Regions from separate parts of the Homo sapiens genome. Here region 1 is linked to region 2. The links come from fine-mapping of genetic effects on gene expression. A gene starts in region 2. The other region holds a variant in brackets. All regions are shown on one strand. Distances are from middle to middle.

Region 1 (4,392 bases), 8.9 kb after region 2:
ATTAAAATAAAAAAAAAAAACCCTAAAAACTTTAAACTGATGAATTCATGTGTTTGCACCTTTTGAACCCGGTTCACCAAGTGGTTCTCTTTGTGAGGCAGGAGAAGTAGCAGGCCACTTGCAGCTCCTCTCTCTGTCTGATGGGAGACCAGGTCCTCCCTGGGAAAAGTAGCAAGTTCTCTCCTGCTGGCCTCCTTCCACAGATCACAGCTGCCTTTGGGGAGAATGACAAAAACTGTTCAGGGTTCCTGGGTAATACGTATCCAGTTTCTGTGCATTCAGGGGAAGAGGAGCGTGGAGCAGAAGGAGAGTGGGCACATGCAAGTCACTCTGATGCCGTCATTTAACTTTACAGCTCCGTTGTGCAAAGCTGTTTACAGGTGAGGAAACTGAAGCTCATCTGGGTTAAGCATGCAGGCCAAAGTCACAAGGCTGGCGAGTAATTAGGCCTGGATTCCTCCTACGCAAGTCTCCCTGACTCACATACCCATGCTCTTTCCTTCACACACTGGGCTGATTTTACTACAATGTTGATCAGATTCGGGGACTGTTTCTTTGGCACTTCTAAATAACACAATTTTGAGACATTAATCACTTGGATTCTACTTTAATTCGATGAATGATTTCAAGGTTAACCTGATGTCTCAAAATTAAAGCTACAGCTCCTGTTCTACAAACTTGGTTTTACTGTAGCAAAATAGAACTATCAACAAACAAGAGATGTGTGCAATGAAAAGTTTTTAAAAGAATTGTCTAGATTCAGTAGAGGAGAGAAATAATAGGGCCTATTTTCATTTCCTTTACCCTGGTCTAACTTGTAAAAGGATTTCCCTACCTGTGTCACTGGTCATGATTGCAAGTTGTCCAGGTTCTTGGCGTTTTGAACAAAGAATTGGACAAAACGCCCAGCAAAGCAAAGAATGGAGCAACAAAAGAACAAAAGCAGGGATTTATTGAAAATGAAAGTACACTCCACAGTGTGGAAGTGGGCCCGAGCACCAGCTCAAGGGCCCAAATACAGAATCTTCTTGGGTCCAAATACCCCTGGAAGTTTCTCATTGGCCACTTCATGCTTACCTCATGTAAATGAAGTGGTAGCCCGCAATCAGTCTGATTGCTTGCAGAAAGCAGCCAACCAGAGGATGAAGTGAAGTTACAAAGGTCACACTCCTGTGCAAACATCTGATTGGTTGCAAAAAGCAACCAATCAGAGGGTAGGGTGAAGTTACAAAGTTATACTTCTATGCAAACTGAAGACTCCGTCCACAATCAGTCTGATCAGAGCCACAGTCAGACCATTCAGAGTCTGGAGTGAAGTTACTAAATTGCAAACAAAGTCTCTACCAGCAATAAGTCTGATTTGTCGCTTACAGACAACTTCCCAACTGCCACGCAGAAAAGGTCAAAGGGAGTAGCCTCTGGTCCTTCTGTTACTGAGGCATGGAAAGTTAGGGTTTTCCTTTCAATTTAGTTCTAGGAAGTCAGTGTGAAAAGCCTTAGGTTCCCTGCCTCCAGTCTCTATTCTCCTGCCTCACATGGCCTTTTGACCTTATATAAAATATGCTTGCTTTTTTGCAGAAAGGTTGGGGTGAAACTCTCCACTCCTGCTTTCATACCATTTGAAGTTCAGACCAGTGAGATTTCCATCAGTTGGGAGTTGAAGATGCCACAAGGACAAGAACTGAGGATGGTTTGCTCAGAGCTGATTTTTAGACACCATTTTCCAGGGATCCCTGGTGACAGAGGAGCATTTTTTTTGTGGTTGAGTTCTGAATTAAAAAGTGTCGTACTATATATTTGTTTGGTCATTTCTATGACTTCAGCACTCTCAAAGACTTGGACAGAAGCATAAATAAGAGGCAGTGTGAGCATTCTCCAAGTAATCATTCCAAGTTGGTGAGTTCATACTCCACCTAGACCTCATGGCCTCGCCACTCTCAGTCAAACTGGTTTTTGTGGTTGTCAAAGTCCAACATGGCAAATTTCCCACTGATACTAAGTGAGTTGAAAACTCAAGTTACAGTTGATTTTGCCCTAGGGAATTTTACCAAGAACAGCTTTACAGCAGTGGAGAGTTGAAACGTGTGTGTGTGTGTGTGTGTGTGAGAGAGAGAGAGAGAGAGAGACAGAACGAGTGAGCATATGTGTTAGAAAGACAGACACCCAAAAAAATGTCAGATTTGGTTTGGCTACACTTCTTGCTCTTCTGGCCCAGGTGGACAGTTGACCTTCCTTCCCCCTACCTGTTCATAGTCTCTGACTGGCTTTGATGCGGGAGAACTGAAGTCCAAATAAGCATGACCCTAGCCTCTAATACAAACACCGTGCTTCAGATTTCCTCCCCAGAAAGGGAGTTGAGATTCTAACTA[G/C]CTGAGTCATCTAGTGACAACTCCCTTCATTGTGTTATGTTACAAAAACATAGTTGTTCACTATGGGAACCCGGATGGGAAATCCATTCCACTTTCAGGTTAAACCGTTAGCCTGGCCAAATGACTGTAAGATTCTACAAGGTCCTGATTTTTCAATAATGCCTTCACCATGATTTGGAAATTACTTTTTCAGACTTAGAAGGTGAGGAAAACTTGAGCAAGAATTGCAAAGGAACTGAAAAACCAATTTGAAACATAAACATTATCTGGAATGTTTATAATGCATGTATTCCTTGTCCAATAGAAACCAAATAAGCTTCTCTGATGAGACCCTTCAGAATAGCTGTCCCTAAGAGGAACTAAATCAGGAATTGGGGATAGCTGGCAAGAAGACATCAAAGAAAGCTCAGGATGTGGAATCTCTACATTGCCCTGGATCTTCTTTTGCAGGTGCAGGTTCCTAGAGTTCTTATTCACCATCCTGAGGACACCAGGGGAATAAAAAGGATTGCAGGGCCTCGTCCTTCTTGACCTTCTCCCCCTCTGATTTCCTGACTGTCTTCTCAGTGGTCCTGATGTCTTCTATAATGACTCGATGTTTTTAGGAATCAGAGTCCTGGACACAGAGACACATCCAGGTTTGGCACCAGGCTTGTGTGAGTTCTTTTCTATTTTTTTAATGAAGAAGAAGGAAGAACATAAACAAGTGTAAGTGGAAAGCATTTTTTTTCCTTCTAGATCACATATGTGACATTTTACAGGGATTTCTTCTAGGTTGTCAATACATTAAAGACAACTAAAAAGATTATTACAGGGAATTCTTAAAGTCTTAAAGGAAGATAGTCTCACAGGAGGATGAGATCTCTGACAAATCAATACGTTAATTATTGTCTGAAAAGGACGTGGAGCAAGATTTCCCCCTCATTTTCATTCTTCAGTTAGAGCTTCTGATCAACATAAGGATCATTCACCCAACAAATATTTACTGAGTAATCCCTGAATGTCAGGCATGAGTCTAAGAGCGTCACACTCATATCTTACTACGTTCCACAGCAACCTTCTGAGGTAGGTGCTATCGTAAACACTATCACACAGGGTATAAAACTGTAAGAGCTTAAGTGCCTTTCCCAAGGCTTCACAGATTGTCCAGCGTGGCCAGAATTTTAATTCAGGCAGTCTAGATCCAGAGCCTCTTAATCACTGTACGGTGTTGCCTCCAACCTGGAGGAACTGGTCTGAAGAGAACAAGTATTACCACGAGTGTTAATACCATTATAGGTAAAATACACGTAGTGCCTAGATATTGGTTTCTAAATATGGTTCTCCAATGAAAGGAATGAAGGCACTTTGGACTTCGGAGAAGTGGTGGCTGATATCAGGGCTGAAACAACAATATGAGATGATTATGGAATATTTTGTGCTGGTGTTCTGTGTTCTTTCATGAGATGATCATTCAGGTGAGGTCACAAGAGGACATATAAGGAGGCTCAGGAAAACACAGTTTACTGTACTCACAGATCCTAAAGACAAGAGGCACAGGACACCACAAAGGGCCTTGGGGGAAAGCTCTGGGGTGGCCAGGAGGCAGAGGGGCAGGAGTGAGAGGAGATCCAGGCCCATGGTCATGTGAAAAGCAGGGCAAGATGAACTGTTTAGGTTTGAATACTTTCCATAGGCTCTAAGCCATAGAGGTGTCCCCTAGTTGCCTGGTACCTGGCCTTGGAATGACTAAAGCAGAGAAGGGTTACCTCTTGTGTGTATAGCCAAATAGAAGAGATAAGGATCTGGTCTGGTTAGTTTACATATTAGAGACATGCTCCTGGCTGAGAGGGGTGTTGGTCTCTGTCCCCAGCTCTACTGGGAAAGGATTCACTTTGAAGCTTACTCAGGTTGTTGGCAGAATTTATTTCCTAGTATTTGTAGGACTCATGATTTTTCGAAGTCAGCAGGAGAGCAAGACTCTAGAGTGAGTCTACCAGCAAGACAGATCCTTACATAATGTAACACAATCACAGGAGTGACA
Region 2 (4,392 bases):
AAAAGACCATTTAAATGTCATATCTGCTTGTTTTCATGTAATCTGTCAAAGCATTTTTTAGGGTGAGGATGTAACATGGGAGGAGTAAAATAATAAACTGTAAACGTGTTTATTCCACAAGAGTTTATCACACGACCCCAGATAACAAACTCTGTTTTGGAAATATTAAACCCTTTCTTTAAATCTGATTTTTTCCACTTGTAAAATGCAGAATATACCAACAAATCTTTAATAGAATAACTGAAACTTTTTTGTAAATGGGAGACATGAAAGCTATATATAATAAATATTAACTGCTTCCTTGATTATACAAATGCATAGTTTTAACTTAACAATATTAAGCTCTTAAAATATAGTAAATATGAAATACTTCAGGTTCAAGATCGAAAGAAACTTAAGTGTGATGTTATGTTTAAGACAAATAATCATGTTAACATGATAATAATGCTTAAATTTGAGGCAGACGGGCACTGTGGCTCATGCCTGTAATCCCAGCACTTTGGGAGGCCAAGGTAGGAGGGTCACTTGGGCCCATGAGTTCAAGACCAGCCTGGGCAACATGGCGAAACCCCGTCTCATTAAATAAAATAAAATTAAATAAAATCTCATTAAATAAATAATTTAGGGCAGATTTGCCATGCCATAATCAGTGTATTAGGTTTAAATGTTTTACTATCTTTTACTTGATTAAGAAAATTTATCACGTATGGTACCATTCCATAAAATTTCTCCTTAAAATTTTTAATCCCAGCACTTTAAAGTAGCAAACTTAAGTTTGCTCACATTCTTTCCATGCTGTGGTTGAAGCTAATGCTTTCAGCTCCCAGGTTGGCAGGGAAATTCCTCTCACTTCAATCAAAAACAATTCTTGGAAAAAATAACACATTCCACTATTAGCTTCAGACACCGACCTGCTGCTAACTGTAGGGTTTTTCCTAGACGCCACACCCCAGCCTTACATAAAGGAGAAAGCTTAGAGTTCTTTTAAAATAGCAATGCACTCACAATTCATTATTTTTCCCTATCACAGATGGCTGAAAATAAACAGCAGAGAATTTGGATTCAAAACTGTTGATTTAGGCAGAGAACCAGCCAACCCCTTCCGGCTCCCCAGAGCAAATGTTAAATGACTGCCCGTTCTAGTAGAAACTCTATAGTCTCTCAAATCTGATTTAAAAGCGAATATCTGTTTCCTACCTATAGAGTTTAGCAAAAAGGCAGTTCACTTTTAGTTGAAAGAGCATTTTGTAAAACAACATCTCATAAAATTACTACGCTATACTGTACCAATCTCGCTTTTGTATAATCTGCTTTCAAAGGAATGAACAGCAACAAAAAAGTCACTTGATTTAGAAATATGCATTACAAAAAACTTTCCATGAAAATACATAATGAAAACATCTAGGAAACAGGAGAGAATTCAGTAATAATCCTGAATGACTTACCAGCAGGCCACCTCCTACGATGCCAGAAAAGAACCACACGAAGCGGCTGAGGTGGTTTTCGGAGGCATACTTTGTTTCCCCATTGGGAAAGTAAAGCAAAATATTAGCCGCGATGCACAGGAGGGCGAGCCCCACCAGAGAATGTCCGATGCATCGTGCACACTTCCCATAGCACATGGTGGTCTGCTAGGTTTTCTCCCCCTTCTCTTTGTCTTCAGCTCAGTGATACCCCAAATTAGATGAAAGTGTGCCCTTCTGGTGGAGAAAGCAAACACCACTCTCAGCCCATTCCTGCTACCTCTTAAATACTGCGATTCTTAGTCACTGAGGGGATGAGGTACTTTGCTTTCATTGGTCCTAATGGCAGGCTCTGGCTGTGGTGCGAAGAGGCAGGGGGAATGTCCCGCCCTTCAGACGAAATCCTTGGGACAGGCAAAACCAGGGGCAGGATGTGAGAAACAGCCTCAGTCATAGGCAACAGGGAAAATGATTAATCTTGAACAAGGCATTGACTGTGCAACTCCTCCACAAGATAAAGAATCAACAGGAAAGCCTAACATGACTTTCCAGTAACTGCCAAGTGTCCGAGATGCAACAGCCCTGGTTGAGGCTTTGAAAGACAGTGAGCTGTGCCCCTGCTCCATGCAGCTGTCTGGACAGCTTCCAATCTGAGAGCTCTGTGTTCATTTCTACCTTTGTGCTGATTTAATTTACAACCTGGGGCAAATCTCCTGAGCTCATTTCCTTGTCTATTAAATACAAGGTGTCTGAGACGTCTCCCATGGATTTGAGAAGGCTGTTGGGAAAACTACAGAGCAAACTTCTTTACTCTGCCTACAGCAAGCTCTGCAGGATGGATTTCAGTGTTCAGCGTCCCTGGACATCTGCCTCTAAAACAAATCTGCACCACAACAGAGGTGGCATCAGTCAACACAAAGGGCTCAGGTGCTTTTTAAAAATTATTGAGTGTTGCTGTCAGGAAAAGCAATGCCAGGAAGGGCCAAGGAAGGCCTAAAGCATGGGACAAAAATAAAAAGAGGAAGAAGAGAGGGGGAGGAAGAGAATGGGAGAGAAGGAAAGAGGAAAGGAGGAAGGAAGAGAGGAAGGAAAGAAGAGAAGGAGGGAGAGAAGGAGAGAGGGAAAAAGGGAGGAAGGGAGGGAGGGAGGAAGGAAGGAAGGAAAAAAGGAAGGAAGGATGGGGGGAGGGAAGGAAGGAGGGAGAGGGAGAAAAAAATAAGACAAAGGGACTTGGCAAGCAGAGTGGAGAAACAAGGTTCAGAGAAACAGAACTGGCTAGGAGTGTCAGAACCCACACAGAGGTAAACAGATGGTTTACCCAGCCAGATCCTGAGACCAGCTTCCACAGGCTCCCCACACAGGGCAGAGAAAGGGTGTTAGACTAACTTTCTAGGTGGTTACCTTGCAGAAGGAGGGGCTGGGCACTGAATAAATTTATGCCTTGAACAGCAGATTGCACCAGCCAGTGGATGGTGGTGGGAGGTGGACAGGGTGGCCGGGTGGGGCCAGGCCTGGAGGGCCTTGTCACCAGGACAAGATAGAGAGTACAGAAAATAGAAAAGGACCAAGGTAGGGAGGCATTAGCTTAGAAGAAGAAGGTGAATGAGGTTCACGAATCTAGAGTCTGAAGGATTTGGCCCGGAACTAGAGGGCGGGACACATACCAAATTTGAGGAGACCAGCTGTGGTTAGTGATGTGGCATGGGACCGGAGGAGGGCCCAAGAAGTGTGGCCTCAGCACACTAACAGGGGTGAAGCCAGAATCCAGGATGGCCTGAGGAAATAAATCAGTGGAGTTGGGAAGCGTGGAACCACCCACCTGCTCAGGCGGAGGCAGGCAAATCCTCATAAGAGTGTCATTGGGTCACCACTATGTGTCCAACAACAGGGAACGTGTGTTTGGCCCGATGGCTTAGAGACAGGATTCCACTGGTGACAGAGCCTATGGGTGAATGACGGCATCCTTTGTTGAAGCATAATCATTGCAACCCTCCTGTCTGCTGATCTATCCCACCTGGGGCCAAAATGGGGGAAAGTGATGCTTAAACTACTGATATGGTTAGGCTTTGTGTCCCCACCCAAATCTCATCTTGAATTGTAATCCCCATAATCCTCACGTGTCAAGTGAGAGACTGGGGGGAGGGAACTGAATCATGGCAGCAGTTTCCCCCATGCTGTTCTTGTGATAGTGAGTGAGTTCTCATGAGATCTGACAGTTTTATACGGAGCTCTTCCCCCTTCTCTTGATGATTGTCTTTCCTGTTGCCTTGTAAAGAAGGTGTCTTGCGGCCAGGCGCAGTGGCTCACGCCTGTAATCCCAGCACTTTGGGAGGCCGAGGCGGGTGGATCACAAGGTCAGGAGATCGAGACCATCCTGGCCAACATGGTGAAACCCTGTCTCTACTAAAAATGCAAAAATTAGCTGGGCGTGGTGGCGAGCACCTGTAATCCCAGCTACTGGGGAGGCTGAGGCAGGAGAATGGTGTGAACCCGGCAGGCGGAGTTTGCAGTGAGCCGAGATAGCACCACTACACTCCAGCCTGGGTGACAGAGCGAGACTCAGTTTCAAAAAAAGAACAAAACAAAAAGAAGGTGTCTTGCTTCTCCTTCACCTTCCTCTATAATGGAAAGTTTCCCAAGGCTTCCCCAACCATGCAGAACTGTGAGTCAATTAAACTTCTTTCCTTTATACTGGGAAGTGAGGAGCCCCTCTGCCCGGCCAGCCACCCCGTCCAGGAGGGAGGTGGGGGGTCAGCCCCCCGCCCGGCCAGCCGCCCCGTCTCGGAGGGAGGTGGGGGGACAGCCCCCCGCCCGACCAGCCGCCCCGTGCGGAGGGAGGTGGGGGAGCAGCCCCCCGCCCCGCAGCGCCCTGCCGGGAGTGAGGGGGCTCTCCCGGCCGCCCTACTGGGAAGTGAGGGGCCCTCTGCCC

What was found. PIP is the estimated chance that this variant, and not a neighbour inherited with it, causes the effect. A credible set is the group of variants that fine-mapping cannot tell apart.
Region 1: its variant is the best candidate, but not a certain one, in a credible set for the expression of TM4SF1-AS1 in subcutaneous fat (GTEx, PIP 0.67).

Annotation. Positions count from the first base shown.
Region 1 is chr3:149,384,790-149,389,181 of GRCh38, forward strand. It overlaps TM4SF1-AS1 (TM4SF1 antisense RNA 1), which reads left to right. Exons shown (of 2, transcript NR_109810.1): 2 at 1,583-1,794. Among named protein-coding and RNA genes, the nearest start is that of TM4SF1-AS1, 9.2 kb to the left of the region's middle. RefSeq lists an enhancer at 1,979-3,178. The variant G/C (reference allele first, on the strand shown) is at 2,370.
Region 2 is chr3:149,375,926-149,380,317 of GRCh38, forward strand. TM4SF1-AS1 (TM4SF1 antisense RNA 1) reads left to right here and starts at 1,853. Exons shown (of 2, transcript NR_109810.1): 1 at 1,853-2,390. It overlaps TM4SF1 (transmembrane 4 L six family member 1), which reads right to left and starts at 1,724. Exons shown (of 5, transcript NM_014220.3): 1 at 1,446-1,724. The coding sequence starts at 1,622.